Linked DNA regions of Homo sapiens. Each later gene encodes a partner of the first gene's protein in a complex. Each region holds a gene or a part of one and is shown in the gene's direction. Other genes may lie near its edges. The genes, in order: TGFB3, ITGB6, TGFBR2 and TGFBR1.

What was found.
Region 2: the proteins of TGFB3 (region 1) and ITGB6 are in contact, whole or in part, in a crystal structure (PDB 4UM9), measured with the Homo sapiens proteins. Residues at the interface, in NP_001316868.1 of Homo sapiens: His259, Gly262, Asp263, Leu264, Arg266, Leu267, Lys268; in NP_000879.2 of Homo sapiens: Ser142, Ala143, Ser144, Asp147, Pro196, Cys197, Ser199, Ile200, Tyr202, Cys204, Ala234, Asn235, Ile236, Asp237, Thr238, Glu240, Asp271, Lys355.
Region 3: the proteins of TGFB3 (region 1) and TGFBR2 are in contact, whole or in part, in a crystal structure (PDB 9B9F), measured with the Homo sapiens proteins. Residues at the interface, in NP_001316868.1 of Homo sapiens: Arg325, Lys331, Trp332, His334, Tyr390, Tyr391, Val392, Gly393, Arg394; in NP_003233.4 of Homo sapiens: Leu50, Phe53, Asp55, Ser72, Ile73, Thr74, Ser75, Ile76, Glu78, Val100, Asp141, Glu142.
Region 4: the proteins of TGFB3 (region 1) and TGFBR1 are in contact, whole or in part, in a crystal structure (PDB 9B9F), measured with the Homo sapiens proteins. Residues at the interface, in NP_001316868.1 of Homo sapiens: Ala301, Leu302, Asp303, Asn305, Tyr306, Tyr350, Leu351, Ser353, Thr357, Thr360, Leu364, Leu368; in NP_004603.1 of Homo sapiens: His39, Leu40, Thr42, Lys43, Phe55, Met70, Ile78, Phe84, Val85, Lys91.

Annotation. Positions count from the first base shown.
Region 1 is NC_000014.9:75,978,976-75,986,779, reverse strand, and holds the start of TGFB3 (transforming growth factor beta-3 proprotein isoform 1 preproprotein), read left to right. Parts: upstream 1-4,784; 5' UTR 4,785-5,886; coding exon 5,887-6,238; intron 6,239-7,804. Other genes in the region: IFT43 (intraflagellar transport protein 43 homolog), read right to left, coding at 940-993. UniProt on the Homo sapiens protein: Transforming growth factor beta-3 proprotein: Precursor of the Latency-associated peptide (LAP) and Transforming growth factor beta-3 (TGF-beta-3) chains, which constitute the regulatory and active subunit of TGF-beta-3, respectively.
Region 2 is NC_000002.12:160,099,268-160,106,289, reverse strand, and holds the end of ITGB6 (integrin beta-6 isoform a precursor), read left to right. Parts: intron 1-4,455; coding exon 4,456-4,554; 3' UTR 4,555-6,619; downstream 6,620-7,022. UniProt on the Homo sapiens protein: Integrin alpha-V:beta-6 (ITGAV:ITGB6) is a receptor for fibronectin and cytotactin. It recognizes the sequence R-G-D in its ligands. Internalization of integrin alpha-V/beta-6 via clathrin-mediated endocytosis promotes carcinoma cell invasion.
Region 3 is NC_000003.12:30,665,584-30,672,605, forward strand, and holds part of TGFBR2 (TGF-beta receptor type-2 isoform B precursor), read left to right. Parts: intron 1-6,054; coding exon 6,055-6,854; intron 6,855-7,022. UniProt on the Homo sapiens protein: Transmembrane serine/threonine kinase forming with the TGF-beta type I serine/threonine kinase receptor, TGFBR1, the non-promiscuous receptor for the TGF-beta cytokines TGFB1, TGFB2 and TGFB3.
Region 4 is NC_000009.12:99,143,107-99,150,128, forward strand, and holds part of TGFBR1 (TGF-beta receptor type-1 isoform 1 precursor), read left to right. Parts: intron 1-1,625; coding exon 1,626-1,782; intron 1,783-2,390; exon of another isoform or gene 2,391-2,506; intron 2,507-3,378; coding exon 3,379-3,503; intron 3,504-4,547; coding exon 4,548-4,678; intron 4,679-6,073; coding exon 6,074-6,199; 3' UTR 6,200-7,022. UniProt on the Homo sapiens protein: Transmembrane serine/threonine kinase forming with the TGF-beta type II serine/threonine kinase receptor, TGFBR2, the non-promiscuous receptor for the TGF-beta cytokines TGFB1, TGFB2 and TGFB3.

The DNA of each region.
Region 1 (7,804 bases):
TCTGGGGCCCAATCTTTTAGTAAGTGCGATCCTAACCAGTTTTAAAGATAAAAAGGCCTGATGGGGGTTACAAAGGAGGAAGGTAGACACTGAACTTGGGTCTTGAATCTAGCTCCATTATTTACTAACTATAACGCTGGGTAAACCACAGCCTCATAGGCAGCAGTAGCTAACCTCTTCTGACCTCTTCCGTGATAACATATGCCAAGCACTGAGTTACACGCTTCCCATGTATTGTTGCATTTCCTTTTCACTGTAACACCTCCATTCTAGGCATAAGGAAACCAAGGCTCGGAAAGGTTAAATCGTTTTTTAGGTTTTTTTTTTTTTTTTGAACCCAGGCAACAGCTCTATGCTCCATCTGGCCTCAGTGCCTGAGCACCTAATCACTCCCTCACGTTACAAATCGGTCTTGGTTTCCTTAACTACTGAGGTAACTGAGGTTAACTCCCACCTCCCCACGGGGATTACCGGGAAGAAAGGCCGTCCCTGCCTGCCTCCCTTCCATGCATAAAACAGTGCGGCTTTTGCAGGAACTTCTGCGACGAGGTGTCCCAAAGGAAAAACTCTAGGATGGGAGCGAGTGCGACCCCGGCCGGGGCTCCCCTATCACCCTGTGATCGATCTGTTCTGGGGAAGTTCGCACTCGGGGCTCTAGAAAACGGAGAAAGGCTCGGAAATTTCCCACGGTCCTAGACGCCGGCGGGGACAGGGTGTTTTCTACTTTCTGAGGATTTTAAAGAAAGCAAACCCCAGGCCAGCAGCGGCGGAGCCCACAGTGGCCTGGGGGCGGGGCGGTGAGGCTGCCTCCTTCTGGGCCTCACCCGGCGCGGCGCGAGGCCTGCCGCCCTGAGTCGCCTCAGAGAAGTCGGGGCCGGCGGGGTCGCTCCTCCCCACCCGCCAAATCCTGGCCCCCAAGGCCCCCGAATTGGTCCTCACGGAGGTAGCCAAGCTGTAGCGAAGCTCCTCGTCCAAGTCGAGCAAATCCTCCATCTCCGCGGCCGCCTGACGTCACTTCCTGGAAACCGACTGGCCCAGACGCGTCCCTGCTAACAGCCCCGCCCCTCCACCCCAATTTTTAAAGGGTACGCAGCATGGTTCCTGGATTCTGTGTGCCATCCTCCAAACTACCGAATCTTTCTTAAATCTGCCTTGCTTGACATCTGGAAGCAACCTCCGGTTATTAAAACTCGCCAACGCTGCTCCTGCGAGACGGTAAAATAATTTGGTCGTTAGGAACTGTCTGTATTTGTAGCTCTGTTTAAATATATCAATATATTAAGTGCAAAGCACTACTACTGCTATACTGATGCCTCCCACTTGTACAGCTCTTTGCAAGGTACAGAAGGCCGTCACAGTTATTGGCTTAACGTGAGGGGCATTAACAACCTTGTGTGGGAAGCAAGATAAGTGGTATTGTTTCCATTTGACAGATGAGAAAACAGGGAATCAGGTGTAATAAATGGTTTACCATGAATTATGGAAACTGCAATATACATAATCTCTGCCTTCAAGAAGTTTACAGAGAGGCTGAATCAACACATCAAATAGCTGAGTAGTAATAACTTTCAAAAGTACAAATATTCAATATCTCATTAAATCCCAATAATCCCGCAAAGTGAGTAGCAGTAGTATCTCTAACACAACAATAAAGCACACTGAGGTACAAAGAAGGGGCTTGAGGAAAATCACCTAAGTGCCAAGCAGCAGAGCCAAATGCCCTTCTGACACCAGACATTACTGGAGTATTTATCTCCAGCACATACTACTGGGTGCCAGCCATTCTCCTAGGCTGGCAGAGGGAGATGTACCACAAATTCCCAGCCTAATGGGGCATTTAAGTTGCGTCTTTGTTGACTCTTCATATGAGATCTCCAAGTCAATATCACTGGCCAGGTCCCTGACACTGGTTGGCTGAGATCCATAGGAGATGGGCTGATAGCCCTGAAAGCAAACAACATTCCAGTATTATGTTGAGGGGAAGGCCTGGATGGACACAGGTTAAAAGCAAGGATTCGGAAGTGGGAGTAGCACCCCTGAAACCTCATTGCAAGCATTTCTTAAATATCCAGTAAATCACTCAGTTCAGTCACACATGTTACTGGATAGGACTGTGTGTTAGCATGCCTGTGACAGCAAGAGCACTGGCCTGGATATCAGAAGAGCTGTGTTCTCATCTTAGCTCTCCTGAAAACTACCTGTGTAGTCAGAGCAGAGCCCTTTCCGCTATCAGTTTCCTCCCTTGTAATTACTTTAGAGATTATCTCTAAGATCCTTTGTTAACTTGCTTCTCAGTGAGAATACTTTGTTAGATTTTAATCTGAAGAAACACTCATTGCCAAAAATCCAAGACAGATGAAATATAGGCTCCAATGAATCCCTTGTTCCCTTCTTCTTCGGCACCAGATGAGGAAGAAGGGATTAATCTTTGGATTTTTCCATTTCTTGTAAGCTCACAGCATACGACCATCACCTTATAGTCAGTTTCCAGACCTTCACCCCCACTTCTTCCCCAACTTGCTGAAAACAGAAGGCAAATGGTCCTCACTCTGGGCAGAGAGGTACCCTGCAGTAGTAGCTTCCAGAACTTGCTTAGCACCTGAATCACGTGTGAGGTTTGTAAAGAAACAGAGATGCCAGGGCCTCAGCTCTGGAGACTGATTTGGTAGAGGTGGAGTCCAAAAAAGTATAACTTTAATAATTTTCCTTCCTATCTTGCAACTGTCTGCTCAAAGGCCTTCCCTTATCACCCTATTTGAAACTGCAACATCCCCCAACCTAGGCACACCCCATCCTCCTTCCCTGCTTGATTTTCTGCCACACCACATTTGTTTGTTTGCTTGTCTGTTTGAGACACGGTCTTGCTCTGTCGTCCAGGCTGGAGTGCAGTGGTGCAATCTTGGCCCCCTGTAAACTCTGCCTCCCTGGCTCAAGTGATTATCCTGCCTCAGCCTCCCAAGTAGATGCCTGCGCCAACATGCCGGGCTAATTTTTCCATTTTTTTGTAGAGACTGGGTTTCGCCGTGTTGCTGGGGCTGGTCTCGAATTCCTGAGCTCAAGTAATCCTCCTGCATGGGCCTCCCCAAATGCTGGGATTACAGGCGTGAGCCACTGCACCTGGCTCAGCACTTTTTACCGTACTACATCATTTACATATTTATTTAGTTTATCGCCTCCTCCACTGCCCCACCCCTGCCTCTAAAATAAAATTTCCCTGAGGGCAGGAGTTTTGTTTCGTTCACTGATATTCTTCACAGAGCCTAGAATAGTGCCTGGTATATAGTAAACATTAAACTTTTTCTGAAATTTCAGAGGCAGTATAGCATAGTAATTAAGTCCAGAATCTGGCAACGTCCTGGGTCCAAATCCCAACAGCTGACACCTAATAACTATGTGACCTTGGGCAAGTTACTTTTAAAGTTTCTACCCCTAGGTTTCCCATTGGTTTTGCAAATGAAAGTAATGCCTACCCAAGCTAGATAGCCTGTGTAAAATATCGCCTCCATCACTCACAAGCAGTGTGGTCTGTAAAAAAAAAAACAAAAAACTCTATGCCTCAGTTTCCTCATCCGTAAAGTGACCCACCGCTGTGCTGGGATACAGAGAACAGCCCCTTCAGTTAGTGGCCTGGAAGCCAGACCTCTCAGAAAGGGTCCAGGAAGGCTGGAGTGAGATGGGGTGGGAGCGGCACTCACTCTCAGGAAAGTTCAGTTCAGAGGCAAGCCCTGTGTTGCGGGGTGCGGGGAGCCACGTGCCCTACCCTCCCTTGGCTGCTCGTGGGAAAAGGCCTAGAGGTTCGGGCCGAGAAGAGGAGCGAAAGCACAGAGCCGACTTCCCCTCACCCATCTGGGAAATGGGCTCGGGCCAACTGCTGACTTCGCGCTCGCTGGCGCAGCTCCCTGCGGAGACCTCGGCGGGGAGGGAGGCTGAACATCTGGATGACATTTCTGCGAGAGCGGCTCCGGAGCGGCGGTCGGGGAGGGAGAGGTGCGCTCGTGCGCACGTCGGGCCGGGAGGGAGGCGATTCCTCGGGGCCTGGGTCTTGTTTTTCTCGCTCTCTACCGCAGCCCCTTCTCCCGCCCCTCAGCCCCCACCCCGCAGCCCCCAGCCCCCGAGCCTCCCCGGCTCCCGACCAGCCGAGCTCCTTCACTGGCGGCCTCGCCTCGCCAGAGGGCACCCTCGATCTTCCGGAAAACGCCACCATTTTTCACTGCCCCTGGAGCGTCTCCAGGCTTCTGCCCGCCTCCCGACTCCGATCTTGTCAATGAAGAATCGGGCCAGGATCGCCGCGGAGCGGACGCCGACCCTCCGACCCGGCTCGCAGGCTGGGAGTCCCCTCTGCGAGGCTGGCATGGCCGCCCCTACCGGGTCCCGCGCCCTCTGCGGACCCTGCCCCGGGTTGGGCCTGGCCCGCGGGCGGCCCCGGGACCGGGGGACCAGGAGGGAGAGTAGACGCGGGCCGCGGACGGCGCGGACTGACAGCTGGCGAGAGGGCGCCGGGGCTGGGGGAAAGGGAGGGAGGGGGCTCATCGGAGTAACTTTCCAGAAAAACAGCCAACGTGTGGCAGGAGTGATTCCAAGAGGGGAAAAAAAGTTCAGCTACCACGTCGAACGAGAGGACTCGCAAAGTATTTTTCAAAAGGGCTCGGCTTTTCCTGTGCCTGTTTAAAACATTAACATCGTGCAGCAAAAGAGGCTGCGTGCGCTGGTCCCTCCCTCCCCCACCCCAGGCCAGAGACGTCATGGGAGGGAGGTATAAAATTTCAGCAGAGAGAAATAGAGAAAGCAGTGTGTGTGCATGTGTGTGTGTGTGAGAGAGAGAGGGAGAGGAGCGAGAGGGAGAGGGAGAGGGAGAGAGAGAAAGGGAGGGAAGCAGAGAGTCAAGTCCAAGGGAATGAGCGAGAGAGGCAGAGACAGGGGAAGAGGCGTGCGAGAGAAGGAATAACAGCTTTCCGGAGCAGGCGTGCCGTGAACTGGCTTCTATTTTATTTTATTTTTTTCTCCTTTTTATTTTTTAAAGAGAAGCAGGGGACAGAAGCAATGGCCGAGGCAGAAGACAAGCCGAGGTGCTGGTGACCCTGGGCGTCTGAGTGGATGATTGGGGCTGCTGCGCTCAGAGGCCTGCCTCCCTGCCTTCCAATGCATATAACCCCACACCCCAGCCAATGAAGACGAGAGGCAGCGTGAACAAAGTCATTTAGAAAGCCCCCGAGGAAGTGTAAACAAAAGAGAAAGCATGAATGGAGTGCCTGAGAGACAAGTGTGTCCTGTACTGCCCCCACCTTTAGCTGGGCCAGCAACTGCCCGGCCCTGCTTCTCCCCACCTACTCACTGGTGATCTTTTTTTTTTTACTTTTTTTTCCCTTTTCTTTTCCATTCTCTTTTCTTATTTTCTTTCAAGGCAAGGCAAGGATTTTGATTTTGGGACCCAGCCATGGTCCTTCTGCTTCTTCTTTAAAATACCCACTTTCTCCCCATCGCCAAGCGGCGTTTGGCAATATCAGATATCCACTCTATTTATTTTTACCTAAGGAAAAACTCCAGCTCCCTTCCCACTCCCAGCTGCCTTGCCACCCCTCCCAGCCCTCTGCTTGCCCTCCACCTGGCCTGCTGGGAGTCAGAGCCCAGCAAAACCTGTTTAGACACATGGACAAGAATCCCAGCGCTACAAGGCACACAGTCCGCTTCTTCGTCCTCAGGGTTGCCAGCGCTTCCTGGAAGTCCTGAAGCTCTCGCAGTGCAGTGAGTTCATGCACCTTCTTGCCAAGCCTCAGTCTTTGGGATCTGGGGAGGCCGCCTGGTTTTCCTCCCTCCTTCTGCACGTCTGCTGGGGTCTCTTCCTCTCCAGGCCTTGCCGTCCCCCTGGCCTCTCTTCCCAGCTCACACATGAAGATGCACTTGCAAAGGGCTCTGGTGGTCCTGGCCCTGCTGAACTTTGCCACGGTCAGCCTCTCTCTGTCCACTTGCACCACCTTGGACTTCGGCCACATCAAGAAGAAGAGGGTGGAAGCCATTAGGGGACAGATCTTGAGCAAGCTCAGGCTCACCAGCCCCCCTGAGCCAACGGTGATGACCCACGTCCCCTATCAGGTCCTGGCCCTTTACAACAGCACCCGGGAGCTGCTGGAGGAGATGCATGGGGAGAGGGAGGAAGGCTGCACCCAGGAAAACACCGAGTCGGAATACTATGCCAAAGAAATCCATAAATTCGACATGATCCAGGGGCTGGCGGAGCACAGTAAGTCCAAATTCTCGCTGGGGTGTCTGCTCTGGAGGGTCTGAACTGGAGCTGGGAGCTCTGCAGAGGGGGGCCTAGTGCTGGCCACACAGCAGGGTGCCCCAGGATTCACCAGCACCAAGGCTCAGGATGTGCGATGCTCCTCCGTTGGGGCTGGGGAGGTGGGTGGGGAAGGAGATAGAGCCATTCTGTTAAGAGCCGGCGCTTCTGGGAGGCCAGGAGCCCTGGAGCTGAGTGGCTTGCTGAATTCACATCACATCCTTGACTGATTTTAATTTGGAATTACATTGTGCTGTCCAGGGAAACATATGTATTCTTGCACATGCGATCGTATCAGTAACTGTAAGCATCTGGGTGCCATAAAGGGGAAGGCCGGCTCTGTCAGGAGCCCTTACGGTTCTCAGTGTGGAGACCTCATCTTCTCCCTGCTTTTCACAACTCATTGTGACACGTCTCCGTTTCAGTTTTTCCAGTTCTTGGGAAGAAGAATACCTGCCCCAAATTAATGTCTGTCAAGCTTTTTGAAGCCCAGGCAGGAGACAGCTTCTTGCTGCCTGGGCCCTTTGGTCTACCCCACCCACGTGACCCACGAGACCCACGTGAGCTGTGTGTGTGGAAGGAAGAGGGTATGCACGAATGTTCCCAGGGCCGTGTACTTTAGGGTGACATGCAGTCTTGTGCAGTAGACAGATTCATGTGCTCAAAATGGGCGCCCTCCAGGCCGGTGGGCACGGGGAGAGCGGGTTTTGGCTGTGGATGCGTAGAGGAGGCTGGCGCCCTTTGTGTCTGCGTGTCACGGGAGAGCGGGTGGAGGGGTGGCAGTGGGTGCATGGTGGGGGGGGGGGATATGTCTGGGAGCCTGCCGTCCCAGGAGGCTCTGTCTGCATGGAGGAGCCGGGCGGCTTCTGGGCGAGATGTCTGTGTGTGTTGGTACACGTGTGGAAGTCATATGTGTTTACTGAAGGGGATTTTAAAAACCTCAATACAAGAGAGAGAAATTTGGCAGATGTTGAGAAACTGACAGCCCAGGAAAGAGGAATGTGAGCCACTCGTGGGCCGTAGACTCCGGGAGCAGCTCTGTTTGCTTTTCCTACCAGCAGGTGTCCTCGCCGCCCTGACTACCTCAGCCCAGGCCCACCTGGGAGGTGGGCAGCTCCTGGAGTGGGGTGGAGGGCATGGGATGGAGCTGGCAGGCAGGGGAGGGTGGTCAGCAGAGCACACAGCAAGGGGTGAAAGGAACCTGGCTGGAGAGAAGGAACAGGAGTGGGTACCGATGGGTGGACCAGCTCTGGCTGGAGGTGCAAAGGCCCCGTTCACGGCTCCACGCCAGGCAGAGGAGCCTGTGGTTACTGGCGAGGGGTTCCCGCTCCAGCTTCCTGTGGCTGCCTGGAGCGCCTTTCTTCAGGATGTGGCTGCCATGTGGGGCGGAGGCTGGAGGCCGATGCAGAGCTACTACTCCCTGCCCAGGGTCTCTGGGTGGGGCTGGCTCAGAGACCCACAGTTCCCAGAGGCACCTAGCAGCTCGATGGCCAAGGCTCCAACTCCCTGGGAACCCACCAACGCGGG
Region 2 (7,022 bases), on another chromosome or scaffold:
TCCAGCCTAGGTGACAGAGTGAGCCCCAGTCTCCAAAATAAATAATAAATAAATACATAAAAAGACTGAAAAAAGATTAATACATGCTGGGTATTAGAATGATAGCAAATAAGTATGGTTAATTTGATTAGGTATGATAATGGCATGGTGACATTGCTAGAAAATATCCATATTTTTTAGAGATGCATACTGAAGGAGTGAAAGGAAATGAAAGCTGGGGTTCACTTTGAAATAATTCAGCCAAGAGAGTGGGATGGAGGGATAGTTGAAGCAGGTGTGGCAGAACTGTGATAACTGTGGAATCTGAGCGATGGGTCTTTGGAGGTTGGTTATATAGCTTTCCTCTTTTTGCGAATGTGTGTATTTTCCATAATTAAGCAAAATTCCTCAGGAGAAGATATAATTTACTCATCCCTAACAATGTAAAAGGTAAACAGGTTAGCTTGGTGACTTAGAACACAGTACTAATGAGCCCAAAGTTGTAGGACAGTTCACTTCACCTGACCCCTGGCCACAGATGTTATTTTTGACTTTCATCAACTCTCCAACAAATGCCTTGCCATGGTTAGAAGGGCAACCAGGTAAAAGAATATGGTTAAGTTGCCACAAAGGACAATAGCAGCAAGCCCCATGATATAATCCTGGTATTTCCATTTTGAAGAGCTAAACTAAGGCTCAGAGAAGTTAAGGGACTTCCCTAACTTTTGGTGCATGGTTAAGCTGAAGCCTAATTGTTCATTGTTCTTCTAAGCACAGCCTTTGGTTGACCCTCCTGGAAATAATAAGCAGGTGTTCCACAAACACGCACTTGGGCAATTATGTGATGTGTATCTACTAACCAGCACATTTCAATGTTCTCATACAGAGGCATAAATACTGACAAGTGATTAATATCTTTAAAATAACATTTTAATTAACAGTTAATTTCCCCAAAAACATGAATTGTTCTCCCTCAGGATGTAGAACATGACTGAAATTCAAATGCTGAATTTTTGCTGTTTCTTCATCTAACATGCGACCCGAACATGCATTAAACAGAAAAAAAAGCATAAATGGAAAATATTATTCCCTTATTAAATTGAGTTTCTTTGAATAACAAATGTTTGATGTTCCTGACTAGATAATGACTGGGTAGTAATTATTCACTTGGATGCAAAAAAGGTTTAACTCAAATAATTCAGTTTAAATTTCACTAACATCCTACTGGAAAAAAATGTCGCTCACTGCACACATTTAGGGGTCTTCAATTTAACTGAGTTTTTTCCCTAAAACCTATTTCTTCTTGAAGAAGTGAATTTGACTGGTCTTTGAAACCCAGTGCCCTCCAGAGACAATAGGGACAGTCAGGCCTCCTGGCCATAGGACTGCACTGGACTCATAAAGTGACAGGGCTTAAGACAGAAAGGTCTTCACTCCTACCTCCTAAAACATTTCAGAGCAGCTGTAAAGAAAGGTTATCTTTTTTATTATGCTTTAAAAAATAATGCCCACCCCCACATATTCTTTATGAAAACACAAATGAAACATATTTAAATTCATCTTTGATTAGAATTTTTTTTCTAGGATGACAAGTCATTAACTTGAGGCAAAAAAATGTTCAGCCTGACATTTCTTGCAGTCATGAATTGATTTTGTACTGTGCTAAGCAAATCAGGTCTGTGTTTGGCAGTTGGGCGATCATTAAGGAAGCTGTGGGTCATGACAGAGTTTTCCTATTACCACTTTTTCAATCTTGAAAAATGTGTCATTGCATTTGCAGAATCCACAGCCTAAATTAGCACTCCCAGACACCTGGGGGAATCAGCCTGGTAACCCCAAATGGTTAGGGGAAAACTGACCTTTTCTGAGCAGTGGATTGCACACTCACCCGAAATAGAGTAGGACTCAAGCCTGCATTTCAGCTGGAAAGTCTGTGTAGAGAGGTTACAATCAGCAGAGCACTAGAGGAGGCAGTGTGGACATTTCCACACCTCCTCCTGGAACAAAACCCAATGTGAGTGCATTATCCTGACCTCTGATCTTCAGCTGAGGCCAGGAAATACCCTATTACACACAACAGCAATATGTACTTGCTCTTCGTCCACTTTTACACTTCCACCTTACCCTCTTACTCTAGTGAAGTCTGCTTTACCCATCACTCCCTATAAGCAATGTCTTGGCCCTAAACCAGTATTGCAAGGGACTCCCAAAATATTGCAAACCTGAATGAATGAAGTTGCTTTAAAATACGGAATGAAAACTCTGCCATCAAAATTAAACATTCAACTAAATATCTACTAAATAACATTGTGTTATCTTGTCAACTGCAATTCAAGTCACCTCCTCTATAATGCATATCAGTTATATTAAGTGTGGGATATGGGTGTATTGTAGTATGTTTGACATGATATAGGGTGCACCTACAAACAAGTATCTGGTCCTACGGAGCTCTAAGCTGGCCCTGCTCACAGCCTGTGTCCTCTTTCCAAGTGTCTTTTCTGTTCACAAAGGTGGGAGCTTCCTGGAGGAAGTGGGAAATTCCTCCAGGACAGGCTTACCCTGTCATTGCTGGCCTGAACCTCTTACTTTTTTCCATCTTGTTTCTTCAATGGAGTCTCTCATTCTCCTGTAACCAACTAGATTCTAGTCTCAAATTTAATAGAATTCCATGCATGATTTTTGTTTGCAAATGAGACTCCATCTACATCTAAATTCACATCAGTCTGCCCTTTGCCTTCAAAATCTCAAATTCTTAGAGCAGCAAGACTAGATAAGATCTGGAGGTCCCTCAGAATTAACCAGGCTGCTCTCAGGAATAGAAGCAATATACCAACTTAGCTTTCACCCATCATCCACCACCAGCCAAGGAACATTTTTCTGTTTGGCTTTATTATAGAAATAGCATATCTCTTTAAAGGCACATAACAAAAGTAGCATGTCACTTAGTCAGAGGTCAGGCCACTGGCTCTGGACAACATAGAAATGGGTGCAGGTGTGATTCCCACTCACAATGAGGGCACTGAGGCCAGTGAGTGGGAAAGACCGGGGAGTGTTTCCGATTTTATTCAATTCTTTTAAGAGCTGAAAGAAATATACTGAGCAAGCAAAGACAATTAAGGTTTTTTTTCAAATCCACCCCTAGAAATTTCTACCATAGCTATAATTCATGGAATGAGGTGATCAAAGTATAAGATTTTAACTTAGAAGGTCAGAGGCGGTACCTGGATTCCATACATACTCAGTAATGGGCTTAGAAATGTTAAGTGTACCAAAGCCCTGGGGGAAAATATCTTAATAATCCTCTCTAAAACCTAAAAGAAAAGGAAATTCCAAATGTGAAGAAAAGCTATAAATAGGAACTAATGAGAAGAGGCAGCATTTATGGAGCATTTGCTATGTGCTACACACAGTGCTAAAATACTTTACCTGGACGAGGTAGGAACAGATAGGGACACCAAGGCTCAGAGTGTCTTCAGTACGGTCATGTGGTGGAGCTGGGTTTGGACCCAGACTGTTGCCATAGCCTGTGTGATCAGCCTTGGAAAGTGGGAGAGAAGAAACTGTACCTTACCCAGACACCTTCCTCCGGCCTGGAACAACTAGAGAGGCTTGATCCTTCTGGACCTTCTGGTCCTTTTGGCTACAGCACCACTGCTATTGGCACCTGGAGGCACATCTATAACCCAAACAGCACAGCTGAGCTACCCAAGAGTCCCACACCCAACCTTCCCACTGCCCCCAAGGCAAAGCCATTTTTCCTGGCCTGCCTTTGGACTGCAACTCTTTCATGACCCCAGGGTCCTCCATACCAGTCTCTTGTGGTTGTCTTACACAGTGTTGTACATAGTAAGCAAAAGACAGCTGGTTCTTTGGCTACCCAGGGCAAGTGTTAGCTGTCCAGAGGATGGTTCCTCACTCCTCCCAAGCAACTACTTTCTCCCACTTCTGAGTTTTGATTTCATCTTAGCATGATTATTTGTGCCCTTCTTTGATGCCTCTCATGAGTAACACGTTTGTTAAAGGCAGATACTGTGTCGTTCATTTTTGTATGTTCCTACTGGTTTCACTTTTCCTGTTTTTTACTTTTTTGGCTTTGATTTCACTTTTGGTTCATCTGTCACTGTTCATGCCACTCATTCCATACATACTGAGTACCTGCTTTGGGCCAGGGACTCAGTGCTGGGAAAACAGCAGTGAGCACAACAGCTGAAGCCTTGTTTTCTATCCGTAAATTTGTGCATTACCAAAAGAGGTAAGATTTTTAGAATATACATATGGGACTTGTTCTGTATATTTAACAAAATGAAAATGTATAAATTGCAAAACACTAAACATATGAAATGCCAAATTAATCAAAATTGTTCTAATGGTTTCCAAGACTGAGCTTGACTCTCCTCTTCCAATTTGCACTACGTATTAAAACAGTATAAAAACAAAATATACATACTTTCACTTGAATCTTTTTTTTTTTTCCAGGGAACCAATCCACTCTACAGAGGATCCACAAGTACTTTTAAAAATGTAACTTATAAACACAGGGAAAAACAAAAGGTAGACCTTTCCACAGATTGCTAGAACTACTTTATGCATGAAAAAAGTCTGTTTCACTGATATGAAATGTTAATGCACTATTTAATTTTTTTCTCTTTGTTGCTTCAAAATGAGGTTGGTTTAAGATAATAATAGGACATCTGCAGATAAGTCATCCTCTACATGAAGGTGACAGACTGTTGGCAGTTTCAAAATAATCAAGAAGAGAAATATCCTTAGCAAAGAGATGACTTTGGGGATCATTTGAGGAATACTAACTCTGTTGCATTAATGCTTCAAAAAATCATCAAATGATTCATGGGGGCCTGATTTGCATTTGAAAAATGTTTGAAATTAGAGTCTCATTTGTTTCAGGAATGCAGCTACCTGAGTTTTTTGTCTCGGCAAAGTCACAAAGCCCATATACTCACATTGTGTGTCTATACTTGCCAATTAATTCTAAACTTGTAGGAAATATGCCCTCTCTTAAAGGAGAATTTTTTTTAAATCTCTGAGAAATGAGATTCTGAGTTTATTTCAGCTAAAAGGTTGCAATTCTTCTGAAGATATCTCAAATATAAGGTTGAAAGTTAAGTGTTAATAATTTTTGTGAATTTATACACACCTAAACGTTAAGTACACAAATATTTTATTTGTTTTACAAATAAGGAATAAGTAATTTATAAATTAAGAAGTTACCTATAAAAATAAAAAGATAACAACCCTATCATATAGCTTATTTTTAAATTACCTGAAAAACGATATTCTACACTGTTTCCTTTTTGACTCTGAGTTTTCAAACTGTTACTTCTCCCATATTTCTCAATCCATTTCACTCAGTTGCACAGTCTTTTAAACCCTGTAATTGTCATACCAAAGTTTCTTTTTAAAAAAAAATTACTTTAAATGCTTAGTTTATTCAAAGAGCGATCCAATAATATAAAAGGAACATGTGTTAAACACAATAAAATTTTAAATGGCTCTAAATCAAGCACATCAAGAGTATACAAGTCTTAAAGGCTTTTTAATACATACTCTTTTCCCATCTATGTAACCCAACTTGCACATTTCAGCTGCATGTGGTGAATATGCATCATATATTTACTTTAAGAGGTAAGATTTTACTTGCAAAATACATGTGCAAATTAGGGATCCATCAGTTGATGGAAGAGATGGACTCTAGAATATTATTTCTTGTGGTTATTACTCCTTTACAAAGCACTTTCGTCTCACTTGATCCTCATAAGGAAACTAAGGCTCAGAATGAGTAGAGCTGGGTTCAGAATCTAGCTCTTCTAACTCCAAGCCATCTCCTCTTTCCACTGCAGGAAACTGCCTCTTTTGTCAGTGAAATAATAGAAAGATTGTGTTAGTTAAGTGATAACTGTCATTTGTTTGAAAATGTTCGAGACTGAACAAATAGCATTTAAACTGCTGGCATATAGATGAGATATTGTACTTTTGTGCAATGTTTATTACCTTTGATTAAATTGTAATGTGAAGCTTTTACTAGGTGAATAGTTCATTATGTAGTGGAGGCTTCGTGGTTGTCCATTGAATTGTCACAGCAAAATCTATAAGTTTCTTCAATTCTACAAGATAGATCCATATACCTTTGATCACTTGGAGACTCTTTTTTTGCTGGTTTCTAGATAACTCAGGTAAATCAGACCTTTACAGAGTACAGGGCTAGGTGAAAGAATTACTGAAAAATCACCTTGAAAATCCGAAGGGCTGATATACCCTTTATGTTCCTGACTGATGCGCAGAACCTGGGGGAAATCTACAGCAATATACAGGTTGCAATGCTGATAACACAACAGCAATCCTCTCCTCTACGTGGACTTACTGTTGTTTTTTTAATTATTATTGGAATGGGATTTTAGAAAATAGAAGTTACCTTTGTGTGTGTTTTAGGGAAGGTAGAGAAGAATCTGCTCTTTCTCTGAATACTGTTTTGACCCCAGGCAGGACCTTGGAAAGGCCAAAACATTAACAGTAGTACTTCTGTTCACTGAAGAGTTATGTTACATGAAGATAAAATGGTTTTGTCGTGTTTATTATTGTATTTTGTGTTGATATAAATAAACATGGTAATTTAAACAATGAACCTTAGATGGATGATAGTTTCTTTTATTTGCTTGGCACAAAACCCTCTTCTTGGATTTCTGGATTCCTCTGTGACCTGTTCTGACTGCCTTGATGGTCTTGGTCTGGGGCCAAGGAGAAGAGCAAAAGGAGGCAGCCACAGAAGGCAAGAGACAGCAGGGAGCGGGCCTGGACATCACCATTTTGTAAAGTCAAGTTCTTTAGAGTTAGTGCTATAAACTGAAATGTATCACCTTCCACCCCCAATAGCCCCTGTCCCCCCAAAATTCATGTATTGAAGTCTTAACCCCCAGTAGCTGAGACTATAACTGTGCTTAGAAATAGAGCCTTTAAAGAGATAATTAAAGGCCGGGCACGATGGCTCATGCCTGTAATCCCAACACTTTGGGAGGCTGATGCAGGCA
Region 3 (7,022 bases), on another chromosome or scaffold:
CTCCGACAGCATCCACAGTTGTCCATGTGCAGCACAACAAATCAAGCCAGGCAGATCTCCCATTGGCACTAGTTACCAACTTCCTAGAGAAACCCATCAATCTCAAAATTCCTGCTCTAGCAAGTCCTGGAAAAGAGACTAGAGCCCAAATGCCTTCACTCTGCCAAGGGAGCTTCCCTTTTTGTGTGTCTGTGCCATGGACTTCTTGAAGTAGGGAAGCCTGTGGACCCCTTCTCACTGTGATGTTTTTTAAATGCATAAAATAGAACATGGAGTATTTCAAAGAAAACCAATTACATTGAAATACAATGACCAAATATTTTAAAAATGAATTTGTGTTATAGTAATATATGTTTCTATAATAATGCTTTAAATAACAATAGCAGCAGATCTAAACAATTGAAATGTCTAAATGGTGAGCGTAAGTCACATGCTGAGACGTCTGCAACAACAAACTCATAGGTACAGCTGATACTAGGAAATATTAATTTTTAATTAAAGGTTAGAGAAAATAAAAAAAGATGCAATTTTTGCCCATTCAAATTCACAGACCCACTGAACTCTATTTATGGAACCCAGGCTAAAAATGTTTACTATTATAGCCTCATTTTTTTATGGGCCTTGGATAAATTCCACCCTTATTTTTAATGCCCTTCAGAGCTATATCTGGTTCAATGTTATTACTATTCATGGAAGGTCCCAATAGTGCAACAATTATGTTTTGAGCTCTGCTAAGATCTAGGCCATGAGAATAGGCTCTGAGAAAAGAAAAAGATTTGGGGGTTCTCCTTCACATAAAACTTTTTATTTCCTGGCAGGAAAAAGATGCATATTTACAGAGACACTACTAAACTGTGGTTCTTAGTTCAGAACAAAGGAATATAATCCCCATACCCAAAATATACTCCTTTAGACACATTATACAAGAATTGCCAATGTCAGTCGGTGGATGGCTGTAAAATCACTTAGTCCAGGCTACACTAAAGAAAAACACTTTATCAAATTGGGAGCTTATATAAAGTCATTCTTCCCCTCCCCCGCAACCCCTACCCCCCCATCCCCGCCCGCACAAACACAGGGTCTTGCTCTGTTACCCAGGCTGGAATGCAGTGGCAGGATCATAGTGTGCTGCCGCCTTGAACTCCTGCCTCAAGTAAAGTAATCCTCCTGCCTCAGCCACCGTAATAGCTGGGACTACAGGAAGCACCACAGTGTCTGGCTAATTTTTTTTTTTTTTAAGTTTGTGTAGAGACAGTCTCACTATGTTGCCCAGGCTAGTCTCAAACTCCTAGGCTCAAGTGATTCTCCCGCCAAAGTGCTAGGATTTCAGGTGTGAGCCACCACACCCAGCCTAAGGTCATTGCCATTCTTAGTTGGCTCTCACCAATATGAAGTTTAGAGATCAGGTATGGGGTTGAGATCAGAAGTCTCTCCAATCAGGCAATGCTCATTGTAAATACCAGCTTTGCTGTTGCCTAAATTTATCATCTGGGAAAATTACTTAAACTGTCTGATCTTTAGCTTCCCTATCTGTAAAATGGGGTTTATAATAATAGCAGTTTCTACCTCATAGGGTTTTTCTATCAATTAAATTTAAATATTCTATAAAATCCTTAGCACACAGCCAGGAACTTAGTAAGTGTTCAGTTTATGAGTTTCTCTGTAACTGGCGGCTGATGAAAAGAAGCATTTCCTGTTGGTCTTCGACTAAAGGAGATGCTGGCTTGTACCTACACCAACAGCTGTTGGGTTTTCTAGTAGCAACCCAAGGGTTAATACTGCCAGAGGGTGTGGGTGGCTCCTGTTTAGATAAAGCCACATCCCAAAGCTTCCTTCCAGCCCTGGTTGCTATTGTTAGAGTTTTTCACCACCTCTTTGAAGTTTCAAGATTGACAGATGTTATTCAAGAATTCCTCCCCCTCAAATTTTTTAAGTGTAAGTCTTCTAAAGAAATAACAGGAAATTTTAGGAGAAAGTAAAACTTTGGTTTCTGACATTGAACTGGGGATTTCTAGAATCTTCTTCAGTCAGTGCCACACATAAACTTAAGGGGATTTCTGTTTTTGTGTTTCCTTTAGGCTAAAAAGGAATTGAAATTAGCAAATACGACTGTTTTTATAGATATTTAGGAATTGTAAAATAAAATTATCCATGATGAATCAACATTTCATCTGGACGTTTTAGTGAATTAAGGACAAAGCTAAGTAATTATGCAGTTAATATTTAAATTTTTTCAAATTGTATTTCTCATATGTGAAAAAAAATTGACTACATATTCACATTTGGCCAAAGTGAAGTCTCTCCAGATTCTGCCAATGAGGTTATTAAAATAACACCTCTAGAACAGGGGTCAGCAAAGTTTTTCTGTGAAGGGCCAGATAGTAAATATTTTAGGCTTTCTGGGCCAGATAAGATCTCTGTTGCATGAACCTCTTAGTTTTATTGTTTTTTAAACAACTCTTTAAAAATGGGGATGGAAATCATTCTTAGGTCATAGGACTATACAAAAGCAGGCCATGGACTTCTGAGCCATAGTTTGTCAAACCTTGCTGTAAAATATAAAAAATTTGAGAAGTATCATTCCACGTAAGTAATCATTCAGCTTCTAAAACAAACGTTTGTTGAATACCATAAATTGCCCCATTCTGCCCCAGGTGCTGTGTATATCATGATGATCAAAACAGACCTGGCCACTACCCTGCTTTGTCAGGAGAGAAGCAATCAGATAATCAAGTGGATTTCTGATTATAAGACATTCCATGTAGTTACAGACACAGAGACCGGAGACAAGTGGGTACTTCAAGCAAACACATTCATTGGATACCACATATAATAGAGGTGGAGTTTCAGGCAGGGAGCATTGTGGAAGTGGTAAGCCTAAGTGGAAATGCCGACTGCTGGATCGGCTGTTGTGTTTGAATTTGTGTTGTGTTCATCTGCCCCCTTAATTTTGTTTGCTGTACAACAGGGACAGTCCATACATCTCCACAAGAGCATCTTTTTTTTCTTTTGCATTCAATCATTCTGTAATTGCTTTGTCCCACCCCATTTCTGCCCTACTCTTGCCTGTTCTTTGTCCCAATCCAAGCCTCCCAGTGTAAGAATTTATGTTTTTAAGGATCAATCACCAAATTTTCTCACTTTCCCTATACTTTTAAAATGCATTCATATATCTTTCCAAAAAATGGTGATTTTTTTTTTCCCTCTTGGTTGCTGGAATTCTGATATCTTGGGGTTACTTCTCTGGTTACTAGACCCAAGATTTTCATCTAGAATATATAGTCAGTGGAAGTTGGCATTTCCACTCAGACTTACCTTAAGAACAAGTAATCATATTACACATAAACCTTAAAAATGGATATGTACCAGCTTCATTTCTCACTGTTTCGTTAGATGAAAGTTTCAGATGCTGGGCCAAGCGCAGTGGCTCACGCCTGTAATCCCAGCACTTTTGGAGGCCAAGGCGGGCAGATCACAAGGTCAGGAGTTCAAGACCAGCCTGGCCAACATGGTGAAACCCCGTCTCCACTAAAAATACAAAAAAAAAAAAAAAAAAAAAAAAAAAAAAAGCTGGGCATAGAGGCTAAGGCAGGAGAATGGCTTGAACCCAGGAGGCAAGGTTGCAGTGAGCAGAGATCGTGCCATTGCACTGCTGCCTGGGTAACAGAGCAAGACTCCATCTCGAGAAAAAAAAAAGAAAGTATCAGATGCTGAAGTAGCTATGTAGACTGGGGTATATAACCTGGGGTTCATCATCATGAGCCAGGAAAATTTAGGATATGAACACACATGAGGAGTTTAGGAGTGGAGGTTTAATAGGCAGAAGAGAAGAGAAAGAGAAACAATTCTCTCTGTAGAGAAAGGAGTCTCCAAGCGGAAAGGACGGGCCAGTGGTGAATGTGCTGGATTTTATAGTCCCGTTTGAAGAGGCGGTGTCTGATTTACATAGGGCTCACAGATTGGTTCAATCAGGTATGACGTTTACATAGTGCATGGGGAAGACTGGTCACCCCACCCTAATCTTATTATGCAAATGGGCTTTCCAGTTGATCAGCACCATCTGGTCTGTTCTTTGTTGTACACATGGCTGACAAAGAGAAGGGAAGATGGAGCTGCCATCTTGAACATGTCCTTAGTTCCTGCTGGCATTCACCCGTGCAAGCTCCCAGCTTGCCTGTCTATGTCTGAAGCTCAACTTTACAGGCTGCTCTTTGTTAGAAAATGATTTGGGGCTGCTTTTCATTAAAAAGAAACACCTTACCGAGGACTTCCATACCCTTACTATCTGCCCAAGTAATTTCTTCTTAACTCCTTTATCAGTATCATTTAGGTAATGGGTTCCCCTTGAGAGAATTTGGTTATATCCTCATTCTACCTGGACTATATTCTCATCACTTTTTTTTTTCTCTTTAAACACCTACTGTAGGTGAAAACTGACAAATGAATAATCAAAAGATCCTTTTCTGACACGGAGTTTGGTTCCATACCACCTACCCATTTTTTTCCTTTCTATTCCGCAGGTGCAGAGTGGTCAGTATGGGATAATTGCTCTTCCTTAAGTAGATCATATATTCTTTCTCCTTAACATAGCACTCTTTCCACTCATCACTGACTTTTCCCATTCTTCAGAGACCAACTTAAAGGCAGTTTTTTGCTACTGTGCCTTCCATGTTTCTCTAAGCTTTTCCACATTCCACTAATATATAGATTACATTGTACATTTAGCCCCTATCCCAGATGCCATATATTGCTTACTTGTATATATGCCCTAAGTCCTCTACTGGGTACTCTCTGAGGGCAGTGCCATGCCCATCATAGACACTCAGTAGTGATATATTTAATGAATGATTCTAGGATCTGAGCATGAGGCCTGCTCATTAATGGGTACTTTGGAGGGCAGATGGATGACACATAAAGCAATAGAATTCTGCATGTTTGCCCAATGAAAGCAGCCCAGCACAAGCTCCCAGTGAACTAGAGCTGCCTTTTGCTCTCTCCTGTCCACTGTCTGTTTCTATTCATGTCCTTCTTCCAAAAAGGAAAACTATTTCACCAGAGCCAACAAGGCCAGCACATGAAACAAAGTTTGAGGCACAAGATATTATAGTTAGATATCTGGTGCTAAGGACTCTCCTTGTCAGCCCACAGGGGCCTGCTTCAGAATTCCAAGTCAAAAAACTGCAGCATTTCCATTTTTAACTTGTTTTACCTTTGCGGCCATGTTTCCATTGTTGCTATTAAATATTTCAGTTCCATGAAACTACAATTCGTATGCACACTGAAAAGAGGAATGTTGGGTGGATGTAAGATAACTGTCCAAAGAGATCCTTTCCATGGACTCCTCTCCCTGTCACCCATGGGCCCAGGGTAGCCTGAATGCTGATCAGAGCAGAACAAGTTGGAGTTTGAAAAAGAGCAAAGATTTTGGTGCAAACTGTGGCACGCTCTGTGTTTTTACCAGATGTCATACATGCAGATTTTTTGAAGGCAGAAGCTGTGTCATTTTTTTTCATGTTCCCAATGTCCTGAGCTTAGATAACACTCAGTAAATGGTTTGTCTTTTTATTTGGCAATATTGAGGACCTGCTGTGTGCTAAGTGCAGTTTACAGTAGTGAAGAAGACATGGTACCTTCCAGCATGGAGTTCCCTGTCCGTGGGGGATGGCAAGAGTAGGGAAAGACAGATGTGAAATCAAGAGGTAGAGTCATAGTTCATTTAGTTTAAGTTGTACTGAATTGTTACCTAGGAAAAGTATAAGGTGCTATGAAAATGTATAAAATAAGACAGTTTTCCAAGTTTTTCTAGGCCTCTCTTAAGCAGTGACATTTAAGCTGAAGTTTGAAGGAAGAGCAGGGGATGACGAACAGATGGCCAGAGGCAGGGAAGGCTGAACGAGCATGCACTTGCATCCCTGAAATAAAAATTAACAATATCGTATCTACAAAAACTATGCAGATGCTAAAATCTATAGATGCTCAGGCATGAACCCACTTCCTGACAGTACTTACCTACCACATCCAACTCCTTCTCTCCTTGTTTTGTTTCCCCATCAGAATATAACACCAGCAATCCTGACTTGTTGCTAGTCATATTTCAAGTGACAGGCATCAGCCTCCTGCCACCACTGGGAGTTGCCATATCTGTCATCATCATCTTCTACTGCTACCGCGTTAACCGGCAGCAGAAGCTGAGTTCAACCTGGGAAACCGGCAAGACGCGGAAGCTCATGGAGTTCAGCGAGCACTGTGCCATCATCCTGGAAGATGACCGCTCTGACATCAGCTCCACGTGTGCCAACAACATCAACCACAACACAGAGCTGCTGCCCATTGAGCTGGACACCCTGGTGGGGAAAGGTCGCTTTGCTGAGGTCTATAAGGCCAAGCTGAAGCAGAACACTTCAGAGCAGTTTGAGACAGTGGCAGTCAAGATCTTTCCCTATGAGGAGTATGCCTCTTGGAAGACAGAGAAGGACATCTTCTCAGACATCAATCTGAAGCATGAGAACATACTCCAGTTCCTGACGGCTGAGGAGCGGAAGACGGAGTTGGGGAAACAATACTGGCTGATCACCGCCTTCCACGCCAAGGGCAACCTACAGGAGTACCTGACGCGGCATGTCATCAGCTGGGAGGACCTGCGCAAGCTGGGCAGCTCCCTCGCCCGGGGGATTGCTCACCTCCACAGTGATCACACTCCATGTGGGAGGCCCAAGATGCCCATCGTGCACAGGGACCTCAAGAGCTCCAATATCCTCGTGAAGAACGACCTAACCTGCTGCCTGTGTGACTTTGGGCTTTCCCTGCGTCTGGACCCTACTCTGTCTGTGGATGACCTGGCTAACAGTGGGCAGGTAAGTTAGAGCTAGTGCTAGATCCCCTTTACCTTGAGCCTGGCCTCACCCTACCTCTTGATCCATATCTCCTGGCTCTTATCTCAAACAGCCCTGTACTCTGGACACTGGTCTAGGGAATCTAGCCAAAGTATGGAGTCTGCCTTGAGCATACTCTGCTCTGTCCTG
Region 4 (7,022 bases), on another chromosome or scaffold:
TTAAAACAAATTTTTTAGATGAGAACATTTTATCTTTCAGTTCAAAATTTCAGGTAGAGCTAGGAATCTGGAAATTTGTTTAGAGATTCTCTAGTCGTTGTAACAAAACTGTGATTTTTTTTGAGTTCTTAAAAGTAGCATTCAATCTTATGATTTTTGAGGATCTCAGTTTCAGAATTCAGGTCCAACTGAATATATTTTTATGTGTAGTATCAAATGAAATGTGAAAGTGCTTTGTAAACATCAACATGCTAGGTAACTGTTATCTGGCCATCTAATAATTATATTTGACCTTGAGATAAGGAGACTGCATGAGATAGTTTTACAGTTGAAAAATTAAATACTAAGTTTTAGTTATGACATTTGTATGCTGTAGTTTTTGTGCATGTGGGATTTCAGATGCCAGTATATCTCTCTGCTCTAGCAGTTGTCCACTTGCAACCCAATGGCTCCCCCACTCCCCACTTTACATACAGCATAAGTGCTAGTTCACATCTTAGCTCCATCTTTGTAGTTATTATTATTATTGATTGTAACAGTTTTATTGAGTTATAATTCACATCATAAAGTTCACCCACTTAAAGTGTAAAATTCAGTGGTTTTTAGAATACTCAGAGTTGTACAGCCAGCAAACACTACAGTCAATTTTAGAATATCTTCACTCCAAAGAGAAACCCTGTAGCCACTAGCAGTCACTCCCCTTTCCTCCCAAACTCCTTAGCCCTAGGCAACAACTGCTCCTTTTTGTCTGTAGATTTGCTTATTCTGCACATTTTATATAAATGAATCATACAATATGTGGTCTTTTGTGACTGGCTTCTTTCACTTAGCATGTTTTCAAGGTTCATTTATGTTGTAGCACGTATGAGTACTTCAGTCATTTTGATGGCTAAGTAATACTTCAGTGTATGGATATGGCATATGTCATATATCCGTTCGTTGATGGACATTTGGTTTGTTTCTTTTGGCCATTGTAGCTAATGCTGCAGTGAACATTTGTGTACAAGTTGTATGTAGTTTCATGTTTTCAGTTATCTTGGGTATATACCTAGGAGTTGAATTACTGTATCATATGATAACTCTATTTAATGGTTTGAAGAACTGCCATACTATTTTCTTAAAGTGCCTGAACCATTTTACATTCCTGCCAGCAGTGTATGAAGGTTCCAGGTTTTCCACATTATAATTATTATTTTTTAATAACATTTTCTAGTGGTTAGCATCAAAGATAATATACTTAATACTGAGTACATTGCAGTTGATAGGGAAGTGATGTTCTACATGCTTGGTTCCTGGGCTGCTGGAATATCAGTCTATGGCTAAGTTTCTTAAAAAGAATTCATAAGGCACCAACAGATAAACTGATAACTTTTTTTTTGCCCCAGTCTTTGAGTTGTTCATCTTTTAAAGCATGTTATTGTCCACATTTTCTTTAAAGAAATATAAATTCAGTGACTTTTGGTGTAGTGATTCACTTGAGTTTAATAATGCCGTAAGTATTGTAGGTCATGTGGGCTGAAATGCTTTGATAATTTGGGTTGGGAGAAGAGACTTTTGAACCTAAAGATGTGAGTTGTGATTGGTATTACCTTTTAAGCAGTCATGTTTAATTTTTGATTCTTTAGGAAAGCCAGCCATTGCTCATAGAGATTTGAAATCAAAGAATATCTTGGTAAAGAAGAATGGAACTTGCTGTATTGCAGACTTAGGACTGGCAGTAAGACATGATTCAGCCACAGATACCATTGATATTGCTCCAAACCACAGAGTGGGAACAAAAAGGTATACTTTTGAACAACTATATTTAATATCTTCTGAAATCACCTTTTTTCCCTTCTCTTTCATATATACATATCATTGCTGAAACTCAGCTTAAACTTGCACTTTATTAGATTGCCAACAGGTAAGAAGATCTCATGGTCTTGCCTGCTCTGAAGCCAGAGTTACCTGACTTAAAAAGATGCCTGCTGATGAAAGGTTGCCCTTCCAGAAAATATCATTAGGCATGTTAATTATAATAACAGTAGTAACTAACGTTTATAGGGCACCTACTATGTGCCAATCGTCTAATAGGTCTTTTACGTATATTACCTCATTTAATCCCTTCTCAAATACTGTGCAGTAGCTAGCCCTGCTATTTTCATATTTCAGTTCCTAAAAATATGCCTTTCTTGCTTTCTTAGAACTTTTGCACATGCTGTCTCCTGGAGCATACTTTACCCTACTGTTTCTCAGCCTCATACCCACCTTTCCCGTAGGAAGTTTTTTCTAGTCCTCAAAAATCTTAGGAGTCCCTGCCAGGGACTGTCATAGCACACTGAACTGGGACCGTTGAGGCACTTATGCGTTATGTTGTAACTGTTTATTTATTTGCCTATATATTCTATTAGGTGCAAGCTGCTTGAGAGCAGCCTTGTATTCCCAGCATCCATCACAGTGCCTAATACATGGTAGATCCTCAGTAGATATTTGTTGAGTCCATGAGTCTTCAAAAGAACTTAATTAGGTAGGTGTTATTACCCTTTAATTCACAGATGAGGAAACCACCTTGAGGAGGTTAAATAATATGGCCAGCTTCATGTGGATGATAAGCCGAAGAGCTGAGATTTGAACCTGGGCATTTCTGACCCAAACCCCTTATCACAAGCTGTCACAGCATTTTTTCAAACTACTGTCTTGGCCTTGGAGACAGCTGGAGAGCCAGCAGCATTAGTCTATTCAAATTGCATGTATAATTTTGAGATTTCTGGATTCCCTGGGGACTCTCAATTTTCCCATCCAAGTACTAAGCAGGCCCGACCCTGCTTAGCTTCCAAGATCAGACGAGATCGGGCGTGTTTAGGGTGGTATGGCCGTAGATGACTCTCAATTCTCAACCAGCTAAGGGGTCCTTGTCAGTGGTTGCTGTAGGTCTCTGTGGGTCCTGACCCATAATTTTGGTAGGTTTTTGAAGCTTCAGTATGAGGACTGGCATTCTTTTGTATCTATTATTTTTTTCCCTGGAGTATATTCGTGCCCTTCCTTTCATCCTCAGTGAGAAGACTTCTAAATTAAAATGCATGGTTTCTACCTAGTACGTGTATAGGTGGTGTACATTAGGACACCTTTAACAGTCACAATTGTTATGTATGTCTTTCATTGGAAACCAAGATCATGAGGCAGATAGTGTGAAACTGCTATTTTAGCATTTTGTGGGATTTAGTTGACATCATTAATGTGCAAACCAGTGTGGATATTTAATATTTTTCTTGAGTCTAATATTTGTTATGTAATATTGTGTACATATGTCTATGTATAAAGAAATGTCTGAAAGGAGGTTCATCCAAATATGGCAGTAAGGGGATGATTTTCAAAGTTCTTTTTGCAAATTTTTTTTAGGTACATGGCCCCTGAAGTTCTCGATGATTCCATAAATATGAAACATTTTGAATCCTTCAAACGTGCTGACATCTATGCAATGGGCTTAGTATTCTGGGAAATTGCTCGACGATGTTCCATTGGTGGTAAATTGCTCTCCTCTCCCCCAGTAGTTTGTCATGAGCAGAAGTTGTTCAAGAATTGTCTTCTTTTTTTAATTGAATGAAATTATGTACAGTCCATTATCTGAAACAGGATGTCACCGAGTGCCAGAGAAAACAAAGGCGATGAAACCTTTGGGAGGGGACAGTGCCATGGTGTGCACATGCACAGCTCTAGCCTAGTGTATTCTCTTCCTGTTTCCATTTGAATCTGGAGACTCATCAGAACCCAACCCCTTGTTATATTGGAATATAGTTCTTTAGAATGGACAGCTGCTTGAGAGGCTCACCTAGGAAGCTGTTTCTAGCATGTACCTGGGTGTCAAACTTATTTTTTTTCTTTGAGATTGTGGTTATTTTCTCCAACTTGATAGTTACAGTTACATACACAGAATACAATTATGTTACCATTGTGTTGTATTCTAGAGTTAGTTTGTTTTAACTTCTAGCTTTTTAGATGGAGTACTTTTAATGTTTACTCAGGAAACAGTCTCTTAGGCTTGGGGACCTAGACTTGGCTGAGACCTAGTGCCTTAGGTTTTTGAAGCAGTGAGGGACAGAGTATTTCTCTGTATTGTAGTAAATAGGATATATTATTGACAGATGCAAGTAGAGAAAGGGACTTGGCACCTTAAACTTGCCTCATAAGATTCAAGTCTCACTGATAGGGTATATATATCCCTGTGCAAGTGAGAGCCTGTGCACTTACAGAATAGAATCTCATTTGCTGCACAATAGGGTTCTAGGGGAAAATGTCAATCTGGTCATCACAGCTCATAGTTTACTGTCATTTCAAATAGGCTTTATTGATCTCATGGCAATACTTAGTTTCAAGGTGTGGGTGGAATATCAACTCAGGGAAGTGGCTTGTGGATACAGATGTGGATGAGATAGAGAAAGCTGTAATCTCTGTTCCACATACCTACTTTAGTAATGAAACACTGTAATAGGTCTCTCAGGTGATCTTTTAATGCCTTGGCATTAGCTGAATAAATTCATCAAAATTTAATTTTTTTTAAACTGATACAGGAATTCATGAAGATTACCAACTGCCTTATTATGATCTTGTACCTTCTGACCCATCAGTTGAAGAAATGAGAAAAGTTGTTTGTGAACAGAAGTTAAGGCCAAATATCCCAAACAGATGGCAGAGCTGTGAAGTGAGTATTTCTTTTTGATATTAGGCAATTTTCTAAACTGCTTCTGCTTAGTAAGCAAAAGTTTGCTACTTTTCTTTAAGGAAAACTTTTCTTTAAGAATTTTCTTTTTCATAGCAGTCAAACCAATGTTTAAAAACAGAATAATTTGGTTTTCATATTCAATTGTAAGCACATTGAAAGGGCCATGGAACATTTGCAGTGGCCTTTAGTGTATCAGAACATAGTTTAGATCTGCCGGGCGAACTAAGGCACATATTTTTAAATGAATGCCTCCCTTCAGCCGGGGCAACCCAGAACACTAGACAGTTACCGGACATGAATGAGGAGCCCTGTATTCTAGACCAGCCTGGCTACCATTTCAAGGGTCTGACTCTGAACAAATCCCTTTAGTTCTCTGGACTTTAATATCCCTTTGCAAGGTGAGGAACTCAGATAAGGTGATTACAAAGGTGTTTCAAATGATTTTCCGTTTTATTCATCTGATTGCCCAGATAACCGTTAACCAGGAATTTAGGGAAAATGCTTTTTTCCAGCAGTATCTGAGCTGCTCAACTTCAGCTCTAACAAAAAGTTTTAGAAACGTTTTTGTAATTGTAAATTTAAAGATTCGTAAGATGAATTTTATTTAACCTCTCCTTAATTGCTAGCTGTTACTATTACAATATTGGTGAAGCAGAGCATATTCCTCCAGGTTTGAAGATTTGTAGCTTAAAAAGGCTATAAAAAGCTGTTCAGTTCAGTAGTTGATTTTACGTCTTAAACTATTGTAGGACTCAGCAGAACCTCTGATAAGCAAGAGAGCTTGCTACCTCCAACAAAATCACATCTCCAGGCCCAAATAAATAAAATGTATTTCAGCATGCTTAAGGAATTTGCATGTGACATAGTTTAATAAATGAGAGTGCTGCTAGATTTTGTCTTTTAGAAATTTGATCTACTTGGGAGGCTGAAGTGGGAGGATTGCTGGAGCCTGGGAGGTCAAGGCTGCAGTGAGCTGAGGGCATGCCATTGCATTCCACTTTGGGCGGCAGAGTGAGACCCTGTCTCAAAAAAAAAAAAAAGAAAGAAAAATTTGATGTGAATACTTCAAAGTACAAACTTAAAATTTCAGTGTGAGGTCAGATTTCTTCTTTGCTTTGCCCAGCTCTGGTTTAGGATTCGGCCTTTTCAGGTTTGCTAAATGAGTCACTCTTTGTCCACCTGCTTTCCAGCACTGGCACCAGTACCCTATTGATGGAAATTTATGTAATTTCTACTCATTTGCTATTACAAATAATGCTTAAACAATAACAAGTGTATATGTCATTTAAAAAGAAAATTTACACGTAAAAATTCTTATCCAGACCAATGGAAAATGGTGCATGCATTAATTTTTTTTTTTATATTTTCTTGTAGGCCTTGAGAGTAATGGCTAAAATTATGAGAGAATGTTGGTATGCCAATGGAGCAGCTAGGCTTACAGCATTGCGGATTAAGAAAACATTATCGCAACTCAGTCAACAGGAAGGCATCAAAATGTAATTCTACAGCTTTGCCTGAACTCTCCTTTTTTCTTCAGATCTGCTCCTGGGTTTTAATTTGGGAGGTCAATTGTTCTACCTCACTGAGAGGGAACAGAAGGATATTGCTTCCTTTTGCAGCAGTGTAATAAAGTCAATTAAAAACTTCCCAGGATTTCTTTGGACCCAGGAAACAGCCATGTGGGTCCTTTCTGTGCACTATGAACGCTTCTTTCCCAGGACAGAAAATGTGTAGTCTACCTTTATTTTTTATTAACAAAACTTGTTTTTTAAAAAGATGATTGCTGGTCTTAACTTTAGGTAACTCTGCTGTGCTGGAGATCATCTTTAAGGGCAAAGGAGTTGGATTGCTGAATTACAATGAAACATGTCTTATTACTAAAGAAAGTGATTTACTCCTGGTTAGTACATTCTCAGAGGATTCTGAACCACTAGAGTTTCCTTGATTCAGACTTTGAATGTACTGTTCTATAGTTTTTCAGGATCTTAAAACTAACACTTATAAAACTCTTATCTTGAGTCTAAAAATGACCTCATATAGTAGTGAGGAACATAATTCATGCAATTGTATTTTGTATACTATTATTGTTCTTTCACTTATTCAGAACATTACATGCCTTCAAAATGGGATTGTACTATACCAGTAAGTGCCACTTCTGTGTCTTTCTAATGGAAATGAGTAGAATTGCTGAAAGTCTCTATGTTAAAACCTATAGTGTTTGAATTCAAAAAGCTTATTTATCTGGGTAACCCAAACTTTTTCTGTTTTGTTTTTGGAAGGGTTTTTGTGGTATGTCATTTGGTATTCTATTCTGAAAATGCCT